2 separate regions of the Homo sapiens genome follow, and region 1 is reported to be linked to region 2. The links are microRNA targets in miRTarBase. Many come from high-throughput screens and were not tested one by one. Region 2 holds a microRNA gene; the other region holds the end of a gene's coding sequence.

The links. Region 2 holds the annotated microRNA hsa-miR-6072 (UCCUCAUCACACUGCACCUUAG, at 4,749-4,770, shown strand). A microRNA usually pairs through its seed, bases 2 to 8, with sites in the 3' UTR of a target mRNA and lowers its output. Matches are read on the target gene's strand: a 7mer-m8 pairs with bases 2 to 8, a 7mer-A1 pairs with bases 2 to 7 and ends in A, and an 8mer does both.
Region 1: the mRNA of PARL is a reported target of hsa-miR-6072. The part of its 3' UTR that is shown has no 7-base or 8-base seed match.

The regions. Positions count from the first base shown.
Region 1 is chr3:183,821,266-183,831,339 of GRCh38, forward strand. It overlaps PARL (presenilin associated rhomboid like), which reads right to left. Exons shown (of 10, transcript NM_018622.7): 10 at 8,006-8,444. The coding sequence ends at 8,333. It overlaps MAP6D1 (MAP6 domain containing 1), which reads right to left and starts at 4,312. Exons shown (of 3, transcript NM_024871.4): 1 at 3,882-4,312. The coding sequence starts at 4,282. RefSeq lists silencers at 3,890-4,019, 4,040-4,109, 4,170-4,519.
Region 2 is chr10:2,070,727-2,080,800 of GRCh38, reverse strand. It overlaps MIR6072 (microRNA 6072), which reads left to right and starts at 4,712; the gene lies at 4,712-4,782. RefSeq lists enhancers at 9,507-10,006, 10,007-10,074.

The sequences.
Region 1 (10,074 bases), not on the chromosome of region 2:
CCCATGGGGGCTACAAATTTGATCTCTGGGGCAAGTCACACGGGTTCCACTCCCTTCTCTGCCATTCAGAGCTGTGCCAGCCACTCAGTTTCCTTGTCTGTAGAATGGGGACGGCAAGCACTACACGAAGGCTGCAGGGGGCTAACCTCAGGGAGTGCTGAGCCTGGTGTGCGTTAAAGCAGAGAAGGCGACAGCTAGTACCTTCACCGTCACCAGAGCTGGGAGGGCCCGGCAGGACATTCACTCACCACATGTTCCACACAGATGAGGGATTGCTTTTTTTTTTTTTTTTTTTTTTGAGATGGAGTCTCGCTCTATTGCCCAGGCAGGAGTGCAGTGGCTCTATCTCGGCTCACTGCGTCCTCCACCTCCTGGGTTCAATGGATTCTCCTGCTTCAGCCTCCCGAGTAGCTGGGATTACAGGTGCGTGCCATCACGCCCAGCTAATTTTTAGTAGAGATGGGGTTTCACTATGTTGGCCAGGCTGGTCTCGAACTTGGGATCTGCCCATCTCATCCTCCCAAAGTGCTGGGGTTATAGGGGTGAGCCACCACGCCCGGCCTAATTTTTATATTTTTAGTAGAGACGGGGTTTCACCATGTTGGCCAGGATGGTCTTGAACTGACCTCAGGAGATCCGTCCATCTCGGCCTCCCAAAATGCTGGGATTACAGGTGTGAGCCACTGCGACCGGCCTCTTTTTAACTTTAAAATAAAAAAAAAGTAACTTCTGTGATAAGCATCCTTACAGCTAAATCTTTGTTCATATCATCATTTCTTTGGGATAAATTCCTAACTGTGGAATTAAAGAGCCAAAAAGTATGAACTTATCCCCCCAATTTTATTAGTTTTAAAAACCAAGCTGGGCACAGTGGCTGATGCCTTTAATTCCAGCACTTTGGGAGGCTGAGGCAGGAGGATCGCTTGAGCCCAGGAATTTGAGACCAGCCTGGGCAACATAAACCCCATCTCTAAAACACACACACACACACACACACACACACACACACACACACACACACACACACAAAACCCCACATGTAGTGCCCACCTGTGGTCTCAGCTACTCGGGAGGCTGAGGTGAGAAAATCACTTGAGCCTGGGAGGTTGAGGCTGCAGTGAACTGAGATCATGTCCCTGCACTCCAGCCTGGGCAACAGCAGCAACAACAACAAAACAAACAACAACAAAAAAACCCCCCAAAAACCCAACTGTATCAAGGCATTATTTCCAAACCATACAATTCATCCATTAAAAACATACAGCTGGATGACTTTTGACAAATGTAACCACTTGGGTACCACCACCATTATCAAGACACAAAGAACATTCCATGTCCCCAGGAGGAGGCTCCCTCATAGGTCGGCACTTTGTAAGGAACTCGCTGGGGGACAGTGGTTGCAGGGTGGGTCTTGCATTCACTGACACGTCCTCAAGCTGAGCCGCCAAAGCTGGAGTGGGCAACACTGAGCCGCAGCGCTCAGGCCCTAGACTAGCCAGCTGGAGGGGCCTGAATAGCGGAGAGTCTGGAAGGCCAGGGGTCCTGAGCGTGCAGCGCATTCCAGCGGCTGAAGTTCTAGGCACCAGAGCAGGGCAAGGGGTGGAGCTTGCAGGGAGACAGCTTCAGCTCCGGGAAGGAAGCGCTTTCTGTCAGTTACAACAGTCTGCCCATGGAGCGAGCTGACTTGCATGGCGCTGGGCTCCTCTTTACTAGGGATGTTCTAGCAGAGGCTTAGCTTTTATTTATTTGAAGCAAGGTCTTGCTCTGTTGCCTAGGTGGAGTGCAGTGGCACAAACACTGCTCACTGCAGCCTCGACCTCGCAGGCTTGAGGGATCCTCCCACCTCAGCCTCCCAAGTAGCTGGAATCACAGGCAGGCACCACCACGCCCAGCTAATTTTCTATTTTTTGTAGAGGCAGGGTCTCACTATGTTGCCCAGGCTGGTCTTGAACTCCTGGGCTCAAGTGATCCTCCCACCTAAGCTTCCCAAAGTGCTGGGATTACAGGTGTGAGCCACCATGCCTGGCTGGCTTAGCTTTTAGAAGGAGTCCCTCATCCGGGCATGGTGGCTCATGCCTGTAATCCCAGCACTTTGGGAGGCCGAGGCAGGCGGATCATGAGGTCAGGAGTTCAAGACCTGCCTGACCAACATGGTGAAACCCCATCTCTACTAAAAATACAAAAAATTAGCTGGGCGTGATGGCACACACCTATAATCCCAGCTACTCAGGAAGCTGAGGCAGAAGAATTGCTTGAACCTAGGAGGCGGAGGTTACAGTGAGCCAAGATGGCGCCACTGCTCTCCAGCCTGAGCGACAGAGCGAGACTCTGTCTCAAAAAAGAAAAAAATCAAAAATAAAAATAAAAATAAAAATTAACTGGGCATGGTGGCACAAGCCTGTAATCCCAGCTACTCGGGAGGCTGAGGCAGGAGAATTGCTGGAACCAGGGAGGCAGACATTGCAGTGAGCCGAGATTGCACCACTGCACTCCAGCCTGGGTGACAGAGCGAGACTCCGTCTCCAAAAAAAAAAGTTAAAAAGATAGGCAATACATGGACATGTTACAAAGGCAAAAAAAGCAATCGTTCAAAAGAGCAGAGTGAAAAGCCTTCCACCCCTGGCAGTCCCTATCAAGTTCCTCTCCCTAACGGTACCATCTCCTCAGACATCCATCAGGGCATCCTGTGCTTATTTGAGCATATGTGTGTATATTAATACCCCTTTTTAAAACACAAATAGCCTACGTGCTGCTGGGCACCTTGCTTTTTTGGTATGCGTATATTTAAGATCCGCTGGGTTTCAGTATCCCATTTCATGGCTGTGCTATAATTAACCAGTTCCCTACATCAGCAGGACAAGGGGTTTGTTGTACAATGTCTCCACCTATCTTACGCTCCTGAGCTCCCACCCTACCTTGTAGGATACCTGTAGGGAAAATTCCTAGTAGTGAAATAGCTGCATCAAAGGAAAAGTAGTGCTTTTAATAGTCCCACATTAGAAACACCCTAAATAGTCAATGGTAAGGAAGTAGATAAATAAAACTTGAAGATATAAAGGCATATCCATAGGATAAAATACTGCACGTTTATTAAAATTCATGTTGCAGAACATGTAGTAACACGGACAGACTTCTACAACTGGTGAAAAAAGTGTACAGTAAGAATCTAACCACGTAAAAATATATCAGTGCATATGCACCAAATGCACATTACGGAGTAGAAAGAACTCGTCTGGGGAGGGATCAAGGAGATACGTATTTTGTTGTAATTTCTGTACTTTCCCATTTTTCTACAGTATGAATTACTTTTGTGGTAAGAGGAAAAAAGGGAGAAAGCCCTCGGCTGTCCAGGAGCAGAGCTGGGCTGGGAGGTGGGGAGGGCCCGCGGACCCGTTCTCCCTGAAAGCCCCTGTCACAGTGGGACTCTGAAGGGCTCACCCACACGGGACCCTGCGCTCGGTCCTCACCACCAACGCCCGCACACTAGGCAGTGACCGGAGAGAGCTGGGGGACATGGCCTGCGCGCACCCCTCGCACGGCTAGGCCCGGCGGTGGGAGTTAAAGGGAGGCCGGTTCCAACTCGGCTGAAGGCAGGCCATTCTGACGGCTGCCCCCAGGAGGGCGGCTGCGAGGGCAGCGGTGCGCTCCCGGCACGGGGGTGCTCGAGCACTGAGTCCGGGCATGGAGCAGCGAAGGCGCCGCCTGCAGTGCCCACGGACCAAACGGGGGTGACCTCTGAGGCCGCCGGCAGCTCCGAGGTCGCGTGGGATCCGGGCTCCAGGCGCCTCCGCTCTGCCGCCCACCCCATCCCTCTGGCTCCGGGCCTCCGCGTCCTCCCACCACAGGGTGGGGACTCGTTGCGGTCCCTACCCAGCCCATACCTGTACGACGTGGTCACTGCTGCAGCCGCGTCCGCGTCGCCGATGGGCAGCACGTAGACCCCGCGGGCGCCGGGCGCAGGTGGCGCGGAGGACTGCGCGGAGGATTTGCCCCTGCGGCCGCCCGCCCCCGGTCCGCGCCCCGGCGGCGGATCCTTGGGCCCGGCGGGCGTGGTCCACAAGCCGAAGTCCCGCTGGTACTGAGTGAGCGGCACGTCCCGGCCGGAATCCCGGGCGCCCGCGGGAGGCTGGCCCCTGCGCGAGGCGGCGCCGCCCGTGCCCGGCTCCTCGCTGTCGAGGTCCGAGTAGCCGTGCAGAGTGAGCGGCACCGCCACGTCGGAGCGGTCCAGCTGGTTCCAGCGCCGCGCCAGGCAGCACAGGCGGCTGATACAGGGCCACGCCATGCCAGCCCCGGCGCCCGCCGCCCCGCTCCCGGCGCGCGGCGCTCCCGGCCGCGCCTCCTGCGCCCAGCGTCCCCGCCCCCGCGGCCCGCCCCGCGCCGCCGCAGCACCGCCCCCCGGCACGAGGGTGGGCGTCCCGGGAGGGGGCGCACTCGGCGGCAGCCCCACTTGGCCGGGGCCGGCTGCGCACGGCTGGAGCTGGAGGGAGCGCGGATGGGGGAAAGGCTGCACCGTCGCCAGGGGGCACCGGAAACCGCCTGCATTCATTTACAAGTGTCCATCTCGAAGAATGCCTCAGAATTGAATCCAAAGTTCCCTCAGTGTCATCTTATAAATGGCCCCGGCTTCGCAGAGGCCAAGGGCCCGATGGTCGCAGCTGGGAGCAGTCCGCCAGCCGGGAGGTTCTCCATGTGGCCTCGGGACGCCCAGCGACTGCTGCATTTGTGCCAGGCTGCACCGCATGGACTCCGCGGGCACAGGGGCAGGTGCAGCAATGAGGGTGTCAGAGAAGACTCGGGGCCCTGCTTCCCGGAGAACACGTGTTTCAGTCAGCCTGTGAGTCGCCGCCTATTTGCCTTTAGGATGCTAGTCTACATTTGTGACAACCAATCCACTTTTCATTAGAATTGGCATTAGCCACCAATCGACCTTTCCCTGGGTTCTGAAATTCCTAATTTTAAAGCATGGCCATTTGCAAAAGCTTTAGTTTGATAAAGCGGCCACAGAACTGGCCACAAGGCTATCAAGTTCCTTTCCTCCTGTGCATGCATGGCTGTTTTCAGGCAGAGCTGTTGAGGGATCCTCCAGCGTAAAGGCAGGTCTGTTCAATGCAGGACACCGTCTCAAACAACTCCCTGACCACCCACAAACGCTTTTCTGAATATTTGACACATGCTCTCGGTATACACTGCAGACCAATTACTAATAACACTACTGAGACAGCATTAATTACCCAGAGCTCCATTTCAAGGTTGTACTTGGAAGGTATCCAGTCTGCGCCTGGGAGGGGACTGCAGCACATCCCTGGCCAGTCAGAAAACAGATTCATCTCCCAAAACATTGCCTGTCTTAGCTTGAAGTTGTAGCAAAGTGACATGACGGCTGCCTAGAAGTGGCAGCAGGTCAGCTGAGCAGGCCAGGCCATGTCCCAGCAGGCAGCAGGCGAGGCGCCAGGTGTAGAGGGAGATCCTGGAAAATGACACACAGGGGCCGGGTCAGAGTGAACTCTTTGTGGACTGTCCGCCACGGCCCTGGGTTAGCCAGCCTGGCAGATGGCGCTTGGGACTAAAATTCTCCATCTCGCAGGAAAAGAGAGCAGCTCTCTTTTTATTACTTCATTGATCAAACAACAGTCAAAGAGCAGTTGCTATGTGCTAGGAATAATTCTGGGTGCCTTCAGGAGGTTTAGTGTGGTAGTGAGGGACGGAAGGAAGTGTAATTGAACTGACAAGGCCAGGTCAGCATGAGAGGGAGGCAGGCTGGGGAAAGCTGGACTCGCCACCTGTTGTGAGGGAGGGTGGTTGGGCCAGGTGGGAATGTAGGTCACGGGGGAGGAGGGTTCAGCTGAGGTAGCAGACCATGGAGGGTCTTGGTGGCCACACTAAGGAATTTTAGCTTTTCATATGGCCGGGTGCAGATGGCTCATGCGTGGAATCCCAGCACTTTGGGAGGCTGAGGCAAGAGGACTGCTTGAGCCCAGGAGTTTGAGAACTGCCTGGGCAACACAGTGAGACCCTGTCTCTACAAAAAACTTTTAAAAATTAGCCAGGCGTGGTAGTGTGTGCCTGCAGTGCCAGCTACTTGGAGGCTGAGGCTTGAGCCCAGGACTTCAAGGCTACAGTGAGCTATGATTGCACCACTGAACTCCAGCCTGGACGAGAGAGAGAGAGAGAGACCCTGTCTCAAATAAATAAAAGTTTTTCACAGGTGACAACAAAGGAATGACAGACATGTTTTTAGCACTCTGGCAGGCATATGGAGAAGCACAGGGTTGCTTTGGAGACCAGCTGGAAGAACAGGCTCAACAGTCCAGGGACTAAGAAGTGAGGACCACCACGGAGTCACAGGCACTGGGAAGGCTGAGGGGCTGAATTCTAGAAATAAGAGGCGAGAGAGGGAGATCTCGAATGGCTCCGGGTTTCAGACTTCACCGATTGCTCGTGTCACTCCTTAAGCCGAGTGCTATTTGAGGGGCCTGTGCAGGGCGGGGGGGTGGTCCCAGAGCCTGGAACCATGCGTGTGTTGCAGTAGACACATTTACTAAGAGTACAGAGAGATTCTGTGGGTCTGGAGCTCAGAATCCTCACAGATAACTGAGGCTTCAGCAAGTGCACCCACTCAAGAAGTGTATGGAATGAGGGAGACGGCAGCCACGGCATGTTCCTAGGTACCCCACACTTCAGATGCCAGTGGAGGCGGCACAGCCCAAGAGGCCCACGGGCCAGGGAGTGCATGGCCTTGAAGGCAGTGATCGCGGGTCCCCAGAGAAGCCAAGAGGAGAAAGTGAAGCACCCTCGTGGGCAATCAGGAGGGAGCTGTGGACAGCAAGGCTTCTCCGGCCACAGCCAGGTTCTGGCCTCCCCAGGCCATGCACAGAGGCTCCAGCATTGAGGGGTTTTAGGGACCAGGAGATGCTACAGGGACTTCTAACTTTTTCCCAGTCACAAAGCAGGGACACAGAGATGTCTTCATTGCCTCTTTGCCTGGTCTGCCCAAAGCACGATGTGAATTAATGTTGGGCTCTAGAGGGAATGTCCCTATGAACTCAGCCTCCTATCCCATCTCTGGAAAACGCATCTTGCCTCATCTGTGTTGCAGAGTTGTTAGCAGATGTCAGAGCAAAGCATTGTGACCTTGGGCAGTGCCCCTACACCACGTGTGCCGTTTCCTCGCTGGCAAAATGATGGCTAAGATAACTCTCTCCCCTAGAAGTGATACGAGTTTAGAACAGAATCCTGTGCCTGGGAAGAATAACTGTAAATCATAGTAGAAACAAGTCCAGCCTGATGGAAGAAGGATATGAAGGACTGCCAAATACTGGACAATTTCTATGTGCTGGGCGCGTGCTGCCATGCAGTTCTCACTTGCCTGGTGAGGTGGGCACCACTCCCACTCCTTTTCCAAAGCCGCCATTCCCATCCCCCACGGCACACAACCTGAGTCCGATCGGCCACAGGAGGCTGAAATCAGGGCCTTCGATCCTCCCAGGACAAAGCTGCAAGACTTGGTATAACATTTTGAAGCCATCAAAAGACTAAAAATTCTCCTGTAAATGACTTCAAGAAGAACATACTCTCAAACTGCATTTCCTAGATGTCATTCTCAGTCACGAGGGTAACATGAATTCCACAACAGTGAGGCTGTGACGACGACAGCCACTATCTGCTATTTCAGTGAGACGCTTCAATTAGAACACTTTCAAACAGAAGATAAAATTCGGCTCAGATTCAAGTCTGAATTTACCCAAATCACTTCTTTCTACCTCTTAATTTATCTACAAATTGAACCTAGAAAGCAAAACCTGAAAATAGCTTTTTGTATATGCCACTCACTGCCAGAAAACACTACCTTTCCTGAAAATTGAGAAAATACTGCAGCTGTTATTTCAGATTGTGCTGGAGAGGGGATACTCTCGACTTTTATGTGCAGCCAACCCAGGGGAGGGGGAGGCAAGGAAGAGTGAAGGCTAAGCAGAGGCACTGGAGGGTCCAAAGACAGGCAACCAGCGCCTTCATGTTCTGATCAGGCCTTTCAGGGTGCACTCTCCCCAGGTCCTGTCAATGCAACAACCAAAGCAAAATGCCAGAGCCGTGTCGGCCCCTTAAAGAGAGAACACACACATCTGCTTACAAACTAGATAGAAACCTTTATTTCACAACTTTATCATCATTCACATTCTAAAAAGACACGGACTGGGGGACACAGCTGAAAACAGTGGGAGGCCAGATGCTGGCATCTTCCAGACGGGAGCATAGCCATGGTCACTCTAGCCGATGTCTCCTGGGGCTCTCAGGCGGCAAGGACCAGATGCACCACTACTGTCCAATCCCAGTTTTACTTAGAGCCACCTCCTTTTTTGGGGCCATTAGTCCTTATTTCATGCCAGATTTTCACTAGCGGCTCCCTGTTCTTCCAAATCAGTTCATGACCGTAAGTAACATACCATCTGGAGAAAAACAAACCAGGTCCGACATTCAAACAGTGTGACATACAAATGGTAAGTAGCATGGTGACAGATCCCAAGTTGACATTTTTAAAATCGAATGCCACTCACTATGTAGCCGATTAAAACTGACTCACATCGAGAAATGGTTTAGCTTTCATATTACAATATGTAAAAGGTAGAAGTAGGATGGGACGATGGCTGAATGCTCCGCAGTGTGTGAGTACTTCACATATACTACTTTTGATTCACCACTATCTGCAAGTTAAGTATCAGTTTTCCCATCGCAGACATGAAGCAACCAGGTCTGAAAGAAAGTAGTTTGTCCAAGGTGCTAATAGTTTCTAAGTGGTCAATGAAAGCTCACTCGCAGGTCAGACTGACTCGATGTTCTGAAGTGTCAGAATTAGCACTGACTCAGGATGGCTATCCCAGCTTCCATGCCTCCCGTCATCTTCCTCCTAACTATACGAAGGGTGGCCCGCTCATCCAAACTCTGCCCCGCTTTAAGATACCTAGTTCCCATCCCCACTCTCCTGTTCACACAGCCTAACTGCGGCCTGAAGCAACGAGCCTGGGAGGCTGACGCACAGAGAGGTTTAGTAACTTCGCCTGCTCAGGTTCCACAACTAGGAATCAGCAGACTGAGACTAGAACCCGAGTCTGCTGCTGAAGCCTGTGCTGCAGGCACTGGACTTTCCTGCAGCGTGTAGGGAGCATCTTCTGTGAGCTGGGGAGCACACTGCGCTCTGGGAAGGGCCTGCCTTGGAGAAGCTCCTGAGGGCACTGGGGGTAGAGAAAGGCTTCCTGGAGGATGTGGGGTGGATTTCCAGGGGCAGTTAGTGAGAGCTTGCTATTAAAACCTTTATTTTTGCTCTGGCTTCCCCAAACAGATTTCATGTTCCCTGAGGCAGAGACCAGATTTTGTTATCTTGCATCGAGCTCCCAGACACCTGACTGAAAAAATGCTATTTGACTTGGAGTGGGTGAGAAGAGCAGTTTAATGTTTTAATATTTTAAAAATGTTCTGAATGTGTATGTTTAATTATAAAGGGCTTGATTTGTACCTGAATCTTAATATTCACTAAATATAGTTAAAATCTGATTATACACATTAATTAACAGGCATGTAATAAAAATTCTCTGTGCTTAAGTCTCTGGTGAATTTAGAATGAGAGAAAAAGGAGCACCCTAATATTCAAATGCAATTATAAAAATTCTCCCCAAAAAAATCACTTTGTCAGGAACTCTTCATTAATAAAGTGTTTTCCCAAATCTTTTTTGTTGTTAGACAGAGTCGCGCTCTGTTGCCCAGGCTGGAGTGCAGTGGCGTGATCTCAGCTCACTGTAACCTCTGCCTCCTGGCTTCAAGTGATTCTCCTGCCTCAGCCTCCAAGTAGCTGGTATTACAGGCATGCACCACCACGCCCGGCTAATTTTTGTATTTTTAGTAGAGACGAGGTTTCCCCATATTGGTCAGGCTGGTCTCGAACTCCTGACCTCAAGTGATCTACTTGCCTCAGCCTCCCAAAGTGCTGGGATTACAGGCGTGAGCCACTGCGCCCGGCCACCCAAATCTTTTTAACCTACTTATTTCAAGCAAAGAGTCAAATACTTTAATTTCACAGGTATA
Region 2 (10,074 bases):
CCACCTGAAAAAAGACAAACTCATAATTAATTTCTAGACAGACTTCTCTCTCTAGTCTTATCTGTGCTCCTTTGGCTATGTCAGGCTTCTGGGGACTTCTGTTTGAAGATTTTTTGTGTGTAGCTGAAAGTGTCTATTAGGCACAGCCTCAAACCTGACAGAGCCCCTCACCAAGGGTCATGCTGCCACACCACTGATTTTGTCCGTGCCCCCAGGCTATAGATTATTTTGAGAGTCTTTTGCTGGCTGGAAAGAGATGAAAGATCAGAAATGGCTTTATTTTCCATTCCCACAAGACCAGGCTCTCTCTATCCCTTCTAAATTCTTGTACAGACTGGGCAATGTTTTATTTCACTCATCTTTTTTACTTTTGAAAGCTTCCAATAAACAGCCGAGATCAGGTAGCTGGCACTTTCAATATTTTGGCTGGAGATCCCGTTGGTCACATCTGAAAGTTCATCAGGTATTTTGCAGGTGAGAGAATTGTGATCATTTCTCAGTCACCTCACGTGGTTCACATTTTTTTGGCCTCCAGGGACAATTTTCTCAGTATTTTTCCTCAACAATTTTCAATGATTTGTGCACAATTTTCTCACATCCCCATCTCCAGTCCAAAGGCCAGTGCTACACAGAAAAGGGTCTTGTTATGTCAGATCTAGGTTCTTTAGACCCAACCTCTGTATCCCTTTACTAAGGTCATGAGCCACAAGCCCTCACTAGCATAAACAATAAACATCCATGTTGTCTCACAAGTGTAGGAGTTGGGCTTTGTGACTCTGTCCCTCTGGGCTGGGAACAGCTGATATTAAAGGTCATGTTTTACTTGTGAGCTTCAAAGAGCTTGAGACTTTGGACTCTGACTTCAGGTAATCAATCACCAAGAAATGCCACAGTGTCCCAGGTGAGCCGTGTCCACCTCCTCCCCCTCCTGCCTTTGCAACAAAGCAGCTTTGACTTTGCAGTCAGGGTGTTCAGGACTCCAGATGTTCCCTCTAACTATAGACCTCTCTCTGTTGTGTTTTCGTTGTTCACAAACATTCAATAGCCTTTGGTGAAACAGTACGTTTTCTGAAGCAGTAAGCACATGGTAGAAATGAGTGAGTGATTAGGTACTAGCGGTAGTTAATTGTTAATGAATGAGGTATGCTGACTGACAGCTGGTGGAAATGGATGATCACCAGATGAATTTGGGGACCTGGAGTAACTCTGATTATGGACTGAACTGTGAACTACAAAAATTCATCTTGAAGTCTTAACCCCTGTACTTCATAATGGGCCTGTATTTGGAGGTAGGGTCTTTATTTAAAAAAATAATTATGTTAAAATGAGGTCATATGGGTGGGCCCTAATCCAATAGGACTTGTATTCTTGCAATAAAATGAGATTAGGACACAGACACACACAGAGGAAAGACCTCATGAAGACACAGAAGGAAGGGGGCCATGCGTAAGCCATGGAGAGAGGCCTCAGGAGGAACCAACTGTGCCCGAACCTCGACCCTGGACGTCCAGCCTCCAGAGCTGTGAGGACACACATTTCTGTTGTTGAAGGCTTATGGTAGGCTCATACAGCAACCCTAGAAAACTAATACACCCATGATGCTTAAGAAACATGAAGACAGAATATATAGCTTGTCAGAGAAAATTTATGGCTAAAGTATTAAGCATATTTACATATTAAAATATGTAAATAAGTTACATGTGTGAACAGTTTACATGTTAAAATAAAATAGTATGGGCATGGTGGCTCATGCATGTAATCCCAGCACTTTGGGAGGCCAAGGCAGGAGGACTGCTCGAGGCCAGGAGTTTCAGACCAGCCTGGGCAACACAGCAAGACCCTGTCTGTACTAAATAAATAAATAAATAATAGACTTTGTAATCTCAGCTGTGTTGTTGATTTTATAGAAATATCTGATGCTGATTAAATTACACAGTTTAACTATGTATAGTATAATGGCTTCAATTGGACTTCAATAATATAGAAATAAAATGCATTTTATTTTGTATCGAAAACTAGTGATATAAAAACATATTTATAAATTTTACATTTTTGCCTTTGAAACACACATTATGAAATAATCACATCCTTATATAATATGCTTTCTTATGTTATAAATCTTCCTATTCCTTTATTTTCAAATTTTTCACTCATATCATTTTTAGATTAAGTCTTGTTCACAACGTGTTCTATATTTTTCTTTTAATCATTTCTTTTGTGTTTTCATTATTCTTTCCCTTGCTCTGAGTTGTAAAATTTCTCCATAAATGTTTTCTACTTTTTCAGTGTTTCTACTGGCTGTTTTCATTTATGAGAAAAACATAATTAAACATGATTCAAGAAGTATGTAATAATTCAGACCAGCATCCTAACCCATCACGAGACTTTCAACAAAATTTTAGCTTTTATTCTCCTATACCCATGACTCTATTAAACTTATGCAGACTTTTAGCTCTAAGTCATTGCTAATTTGTAATAAAATATTTGTTACAAAATGTAGGACTACATTCTTAATACTTTCTTTAGATTTAAATTATCATTTTCAATCTTTTCTAAATCTGGCACCAGAAGATACTCTTATCATTCGCATGGACATTCTTTATCCTGTCACTTTAGCCCCACTCTTCCACTTATATTCCCGATTCAGATTTTAATTTGACAGATTTCAGACGCTTATTTCACAAGTATCTACTCTTCTGAAAGTGTTTCTTATTCCACACTTGTTTGAAAATGTCCTTTGTCCTGTGAAAACTATGAAGAACACTTTAACCTATTCTAAAATTCTAAGAGTAGAATTCTGCAATCTCATAGTGGTACAAAAATGAGTTTACTCCCCGTAGCAATAACTATGTTCAATAATAATAAACACAAAATGTATATAGGACCTTATGTTTACAAGTCATTGAACTAAAATCTTTACACTGATTCAACCTTCACAAGACTGTGGGGTTGATGTTGTTGTTATCAAAGTTAGTGTGTCTGATGCTAATGTGGTCATTTCCTGGCAGACAATTTATTTTCTCTATTTGGAAACTTATTGAATTCTTCATTTTTTAACTTAAGATCTTTACTAGCACGTGTGTATCTTTTTACTTTTTGAATCTCCCCTAGACTCAGTGATCCCTTTCGAGATGGAAAACTGAGTGTATTTTTATTTCAGGAGAATGTTCTTTTGTGACGTCTTTGATCACTCCCTCTTTATTATTCCTTTCTCATCTGGACTTCCTATGGAGAGTTGACAAGTGCTGGTTCTATTTTCTTTCATGGCTCGTAGGTTTTCTCTCATAATATTCATTTTATTAAAAAATTTTCTCTATGTCATAGACTAGTTTCCCAGCACAAACTCCTGAGTCACCGCATAAAGTCTCACTAGGGTCCTGTGTGAGTCACAGTATTCAGAGACTTGATATAGTTACTGTCGTCTTTGTTTCCAGTTATTCATGTTTCAGAGTTCTCCATTTTTTCAAAGTAGCTTCTTATAGTTTTAACGGTACCAATCCTTTTTATGCAATGGAAAATATGCATTCAAGGTTCTTCTTTATGGTTCATGTCAGTGGAGGAGACAAAATCGTTTGATCTCTCTCTCTCTAGATCTTCATTGACTTAAACATCCACTGGCTTTTCCCATGTGCCGGGACTCACAACAGAGACAGAGCAGCTGAGTCTGTGCCATGAGCAGGTGCGGGCCCATTCAACTGTGTGTGTCCCTCACTTGAGGGGCACTTGGGCAGAGGTTGGCCTGCGATCATAACCAGGAAGAGAGGATTCTTCTTTGGGTTGGATGAGTAATAAACGAACCTGTAGGCCTGCTCTTTTGATGAAATAGACGGCCACTATGTTCACCATTTTCTCCTTGATATGGCAAGTGACTGAAGTCAGCTCTCTCTAGGAAATACAGTGGGGGCACCTGCGGGGCTGGCTATGCAGTGACTGCGGTACAGAAGACAGTGGCCCAGGCTGCAAAGCAAGCCGAGTCCCGGGAAGATCAGGGTGTCCCTGCTGCTCAGACTGTTGCGGGTGTCGTTTTCATTCCGGGACAATGGGGGCAGTGGAGACTGTGCTATGCGTCTCACTGCTCTTGACAACACCATCTCCAAAGCTCCGGGCACCTGGGAAGGTGGAAGTCCTATGTCATTGCTGGGGTGCCCTGGGGCCTGGCACATGGAGCTGGACATCCTAGAAGTCTGTCCCTCATACTGGATGCCGAGGGTTTTCCCTGCACAATGTTTTCCGCAGACTGTGTTCTCTCTCATTAGTGCAAGGAGCCCTGAGTGGAGGGTTTTGGGGGATATTTGGTGGAGGACAGAAGCAATAAAGAAGGTGCAAAAGGAACACTCATTTCTTCCTCTTCACAATTTTTCCAATGATTCATCTTCTCCATTTGAACATCCTTGACAAAGCCGGAAGCACGGATTGTCATGAGCCAAGAACGTTTTCACTGATCATTGTTTCTTCAGGCCGGGTCATAGACACACAAGCCCCCTCCAAAGTAGCCCTTAGCTGTTCCTGCTTCCCGAGTTCTAAACTCGAACTCCTGGGGTTGCCTTCAAGGCCCGAGGCCAGGTGCCCTTGTCAGCCCGTTCAGAGTCCTGAGTCCTGGACCCACTAGGGAGATGCACAGGACTGGGCACAATTTCGGCAGGGCACAGAGGAAAACGTTCCCCTTGGGTAATTTCAAGGAAGAAGTTCAGCGGCAGGAATTGGGGGTGCAGGGTGGGGGCTGGTGCAGGGATGGGCTTTGCTACTGCTCCTCATCACACTGCACCTTAGCTGCTGCCTGGAAGTCACTTACTAACGAGAGGATGGTTCCATTCAGATATGCTTGCTGCTGCTGAAATGAACATATTTCATCTTTGGTTTGCATTACATAGAGTAGTTCTTAAATTATAGCACTAAACAAGGTGCTTCAACTTATTTCCATGAGTATTGAAATAGACGCTAAACATGGCAACTCATTGTGCATAATGTACGAACCTATTTTTATTTAATGTGGCAGTTCGTTAATACCACAGCTCCTGTAACTGCTCAGCACACAACCTAGAATTTCTCAAGCTTCAAGAACAATGGCGAGAATGGTACCAAGGGTCTGTTTGCCCTCCTTTAAAACAGGATTCTCTATGTTTTATCCTGATCAACTTTCATACTTTCTCTGCAGAATTATATAGTGCAAGACATTTGGAGATATCAGAAACCTAGGAGAAAATGTGCTTGAAACATAGATAGTAATATGATCAAGCTAGAAATTAGGAGTCGTGGTCTGCTGTATGTTGAGAAGCATGAGGCAAGACGCATGAAGCTGGCAGAAACAGCATGATTTCAAAATGTATGCTAAATACTAATTTGTGTCATGGATATTTTATCTCTTCTTTCTCTCCCTCCCGTTAATCTTTTCTCACAGCATGCTCAGGCAGAAGAAGATAATAATTAAGCCCATCTGCATTGCCTTTCACTGTCTTCAGGAATTTATGAAATGAGACAGAAGAATAGGCATCCAAAAAGCTCCATTCTGAACGTGGTATGATATTTACATCTTGTGAGTTTAAATAAAATTCACACTGCTGACCCTACTGCCCCAGTGCAGAGCTGTTAGTTTGCGATATCACACTCAGGTTGCACTGTGTCCAGGTGGCAGGATGGAGCTGGATGGGCGGTTCTGCTCAATGGAGCTGGATGGGCAATTCTGCTCAATGGAGCTGGATGGGCAATTCTGCTCAATGGAGCTGGATGGGCGATTCTGCTCAATGGAGCTGGATGGGCGATTCTGCTCAATGGAGCTGGATGGGCGATTCTGCTCAGTTGCAGGAATGTAACTCCCAGAGCTGGTGGTGCCCACTTTTATACAACAGAAAGAGGTACAGTTTCTATCTATCTCAGGGTATTGCCAGAGAGGCTGTGAAGATAAGAGGTTAGGAACTGTGAAAGTTTGGGTATCTCCATGGTATGTATGATCATTATGATTTGAATAATTCTAACCCTCTGAAATTAAAGACACCCAATACTAGGCATGGTGGCTGACGCCTATAATCCCAGAACTTTGAGAAGTCAACCAGGAAGGATTACTTAAGGCCAAGAGGTTGAGACCAGCCTGGGCAACATAGCAGGACCCTGTCTCTGCAAAACAAAACAAACAAACAAAAAATCATACACTTTTTAAAAATCACATTTTATGCAAGCTGCATATATCTTCCTTGATAAGTTATTTCTGTATAACAATTCAGTGTCAGGAAGGGGAATATCACACTCTGGGGACTGTTGTGGGGTGGAGGGAGGGGGGAGGGATAGCAATGGGAGATATACCTAATGCTAGATGATGAGTTAGTGGGTGCAGCACACCAGCATGGCACATGTATACATATGTAACTAACCTGCACAATGTGCACATGTACCCTAAAACTTAAAGTATATTAAAAAAAGACAAAAAAAAAAAACAATTCAGTGTCTACAAATGGAAATTTGCTTAGTGACATAAGTCTTACTAAATTGTCTTTGTCAGTGAAATAAAGGGAAAATATTAGGCGATGGACACACTGACCAAGGTTAGGCTTAGCTTTGAAATGTGAGCAAGGACAACATAAACAGAAAACATTCATTAAGATTCAGGATATAGGATACCTGATACAGGAAACCCAAGTTCAGAATACAGGATTGGATTGTTGTTGCCATGATAAGTTTTGTTTGTTTGTTTGTTTGTTTGTTTGTTTTCACAGTCCCTACTGGCCTTAGGCAGTAAACACACAACAGGTCAAAAACAACAATTTACCATATGTATTTAATTCTATTGTTTCCCAAATTTGACTGGAATAAACATAAAGAACACCAAAGGGATGCAATGATTGTGGTTTTAAGAGTAGGAATATGGGCTCTGGTAGATGAGCTATTTTGGCAAATTTGTATAAGATAGAAAATAGATAAGGTTTATCTAATAGATACATCACAGAAGAAAGGACTCGTCTCAAACACAAATTCAAAGTGAGAGGAAGATATCCTGGCAAAGCTCCCAATTTATTGTTTGGCATTTAGAGAGGGCAGATGTGGGTATGGAGTCAAGGTGGTTAATTAATTAATTAATTAATGGCTATTTGCAGATGACCTGTAAGGTCCTCATGCAATTTCTTTCCTCAAGTTCAAGCCCAAGTTCCTGCACAAAGACAAATGATATCCCAAATCTTCCAGTTGATCTGCTGTGCTGGGCGATGTTTCCAGGGGGGAATGCAGCTGAGTGTGGCACCTGAGGGAGTCTCAACCAATTCAACAGCCCACTGTGCAGCCACGTTGAACTGAAGCTTAGCTATTCACTTCCCAGCCCATCTGCAAAGCGCTTCCCCAACACTGCCCTATAGATTATAAACGTCTGATTTACCAGACTGTGGGTAGAAAAGGAAAATAAATACATCACCATTTTATATTAACCAAAAAAATGTGATTTTGACGTACAAATACACATCAATGAACATACATGTGAAGCACTATGAAAGAAAGTCATGAATAGGAACAATCACAACAGAAGCTGCTGGCCATCAGTACAGACAGTGGAGAACTGAAGAGCACAAAATATACAAAATTAGCACATTTAATTTTCATTAAACACCTTATAGAAAACTTGAGGGAAGCCAATTACAATACAAGAATAGGCTGTTCTAATAAAGGAACTATGCAGAGATTTTAAAAATTAGTCTTGTCATTTGAAGTATAATCATAAATTAGCCAGGCGTGGTGGCACACGCTTGTAGTCCCAGCTAATCAGGAGGCTGAAGCAGTAGAATCGCTTGAACCTGGGGGGCGGAGGTTGCAGTGAGCCAAGATCACGACACTGCACTCCAGCCTGGGTGACAGAGCGAAGCTCCATCTCAAAAAAACAAAACAAAACAAGTCATTTGAAATATAATTATTACAATGTAAAAAAACCAATAGGATATTTATAGTACAAATCTAAAAACACTCAGATAATTAGAATACAACAACAAATCTAGAAAACAGGTGAGCAAGACAATTCATTCAGGCAAAGCCAATGATTCAAGACTGGTAATGTACACTTTATAGGAGGGGCAGAAAGAAAGAGTGGAGACCATGCCACGGAGGATAAACTTTTATTTCAAATAAAAGCTGCACTGTTACAAGCTGAAGAAGGATGACTTTTCATGCAGAAGGGTACACGGAGCAACACAACCAGAATGGATGAGCTACCATGGAACGCAGTGATAGAAGGATGCTCTCAAGAGCTGCCCAGGAAGAAATGAAGAGCGGGTTCCCTTCAAAAGCCTCAGAAGTAGACCAGCCTTGACCACTTTCGTTCTTAAAGGCAATGGAGTGTCATATCAATTTCAAAGGAAGGTACTTTTTAAGATCAAATCCCATATCAAACCAAATTATTGCTCAATAATAAACACAGTTTCAGACAAAGAAAAAGTGTCTTTCTAACCATCTTTCAAGAAAAAATAAATTCAGGGTGGTCCTTGGCAGAACTGAAACTCAATCTAATCAGGATGAAGATGTGAGGTTTGGGGCAGGGGAGGGGAACATTCTTCCGGTGAGTGTGCCAACAATACTCAAACGCCAGTTACAAGTGCAGGTGAAAACCACTTCTATAAAATAAAAACATGGCACAAAAGTGAGAGATTAAACGTGGGCAATTGGATCCAATAAAAGAGTGTAATGAACACAAATATTTTTAACTTTGACAAGAAATTTTCTTTCATTTTAGTGTCACGAGAATTTGTTACGTATGTGACAAATAACATTCAGATAACTATAATACTGTTAATATTGCTTATTCAATTTTCGTGTTTAGAATCATCATACACATACATTGAATGGTTGGAACTTGCCTGTATGCCGCCATTTTGGGTAACAAAAGCAATGATGTGATTAAGTCTAACACGAAGCATAGAGAGGGAAATTAAAAAGTTGATTATGAAAGAGCATTTATGATTAAAGAGGTAACAAAGATAAAACTAAAAATAAGAAAATAACAAAAACATTTGGGAAAGAGAAAGTAAGACAGAGAAAAAATGATACATTGATCTTCTAGTCACAGCTGACTAAACAATCACGGTTGTGTAACAATGATGAAAACAATCACCATTTAAGGGATTGCTCCCGGGGGTGAGGAAATCAGCCTGAGGACTGAAAGGGAAAGACACAGCCCACGGCTTTCAATTTTCATTTAGAATCCAATTTTATTTAAAGAAGTAATTATGGCCAGGTGCAGCGGCTCATATCTGTAATCCCAGGGCTTTGGGAGGCTGAGGTGGGCGCATCAAGAGGTCAGGAGATCGAGACCATCCTGGCTAACATGGAGAAACCCCGTCTCTACTAAAAATACAAAAAAATTAGCCGGGCATGGTGGCGGGTGCCTGTAGTCCCAGCTACTCAGGAAGCTGAGGCAGGAGAATGGCATGAACCCGGGAGGTGGAGCTTTCAGTGAACCGAGATCGCGCCACTGCACTCCAGCGTGGGCGACAGAGCGAGACTCCATCTCAAAAAAAAAAAAAAAAAAAAAAAAAAGCAATTACGAAAATAAGAAAACAACCCCCTGCCCACAGAGCCATAACCATGTGATTCTTCACATTCAAACTTCCTCTAGTATCTTCTATATCTAGAAAGTTTCCAAGACTTAAAAGGAGGGTTGATTTAAAAAAATAGTATCTGGGAACTTCTCTGAAAATCGTAATAAAAATGCACAGCCCTCCACTCTTCCTAACAATCAACAGCGGTCATATCAGGAAAAGTGATTTGAGGGCAGTGAACCCACTTCCCAGAGAAACAAACCATGACTCGTAAAAGGAATTTTTAAAAAGTGTGCTTTAAAGTCTTTGGAAACATCCTACAGGTATATAGCAACTGAAAAGTGTCTCCTCAAGAAAGTCTACCAGGTCTCTGTAGAGCTAAGAAGGGCGTGTGGCCCTCCCAGCCCTGCTCAGCAGGACACAGCTCCACTCTGGGCGGCCGCAGGGTCAGGAGGAGGCTCCCTCTCCTCATGGTCTTTCGGGTCCTGGTGATTTTCTGGGAGGAGCAGGGCACCAGCTTCCTTACTCCCCCTGGCTGGATGTCCCTGAGCTAAGTCCCAGGCGACTT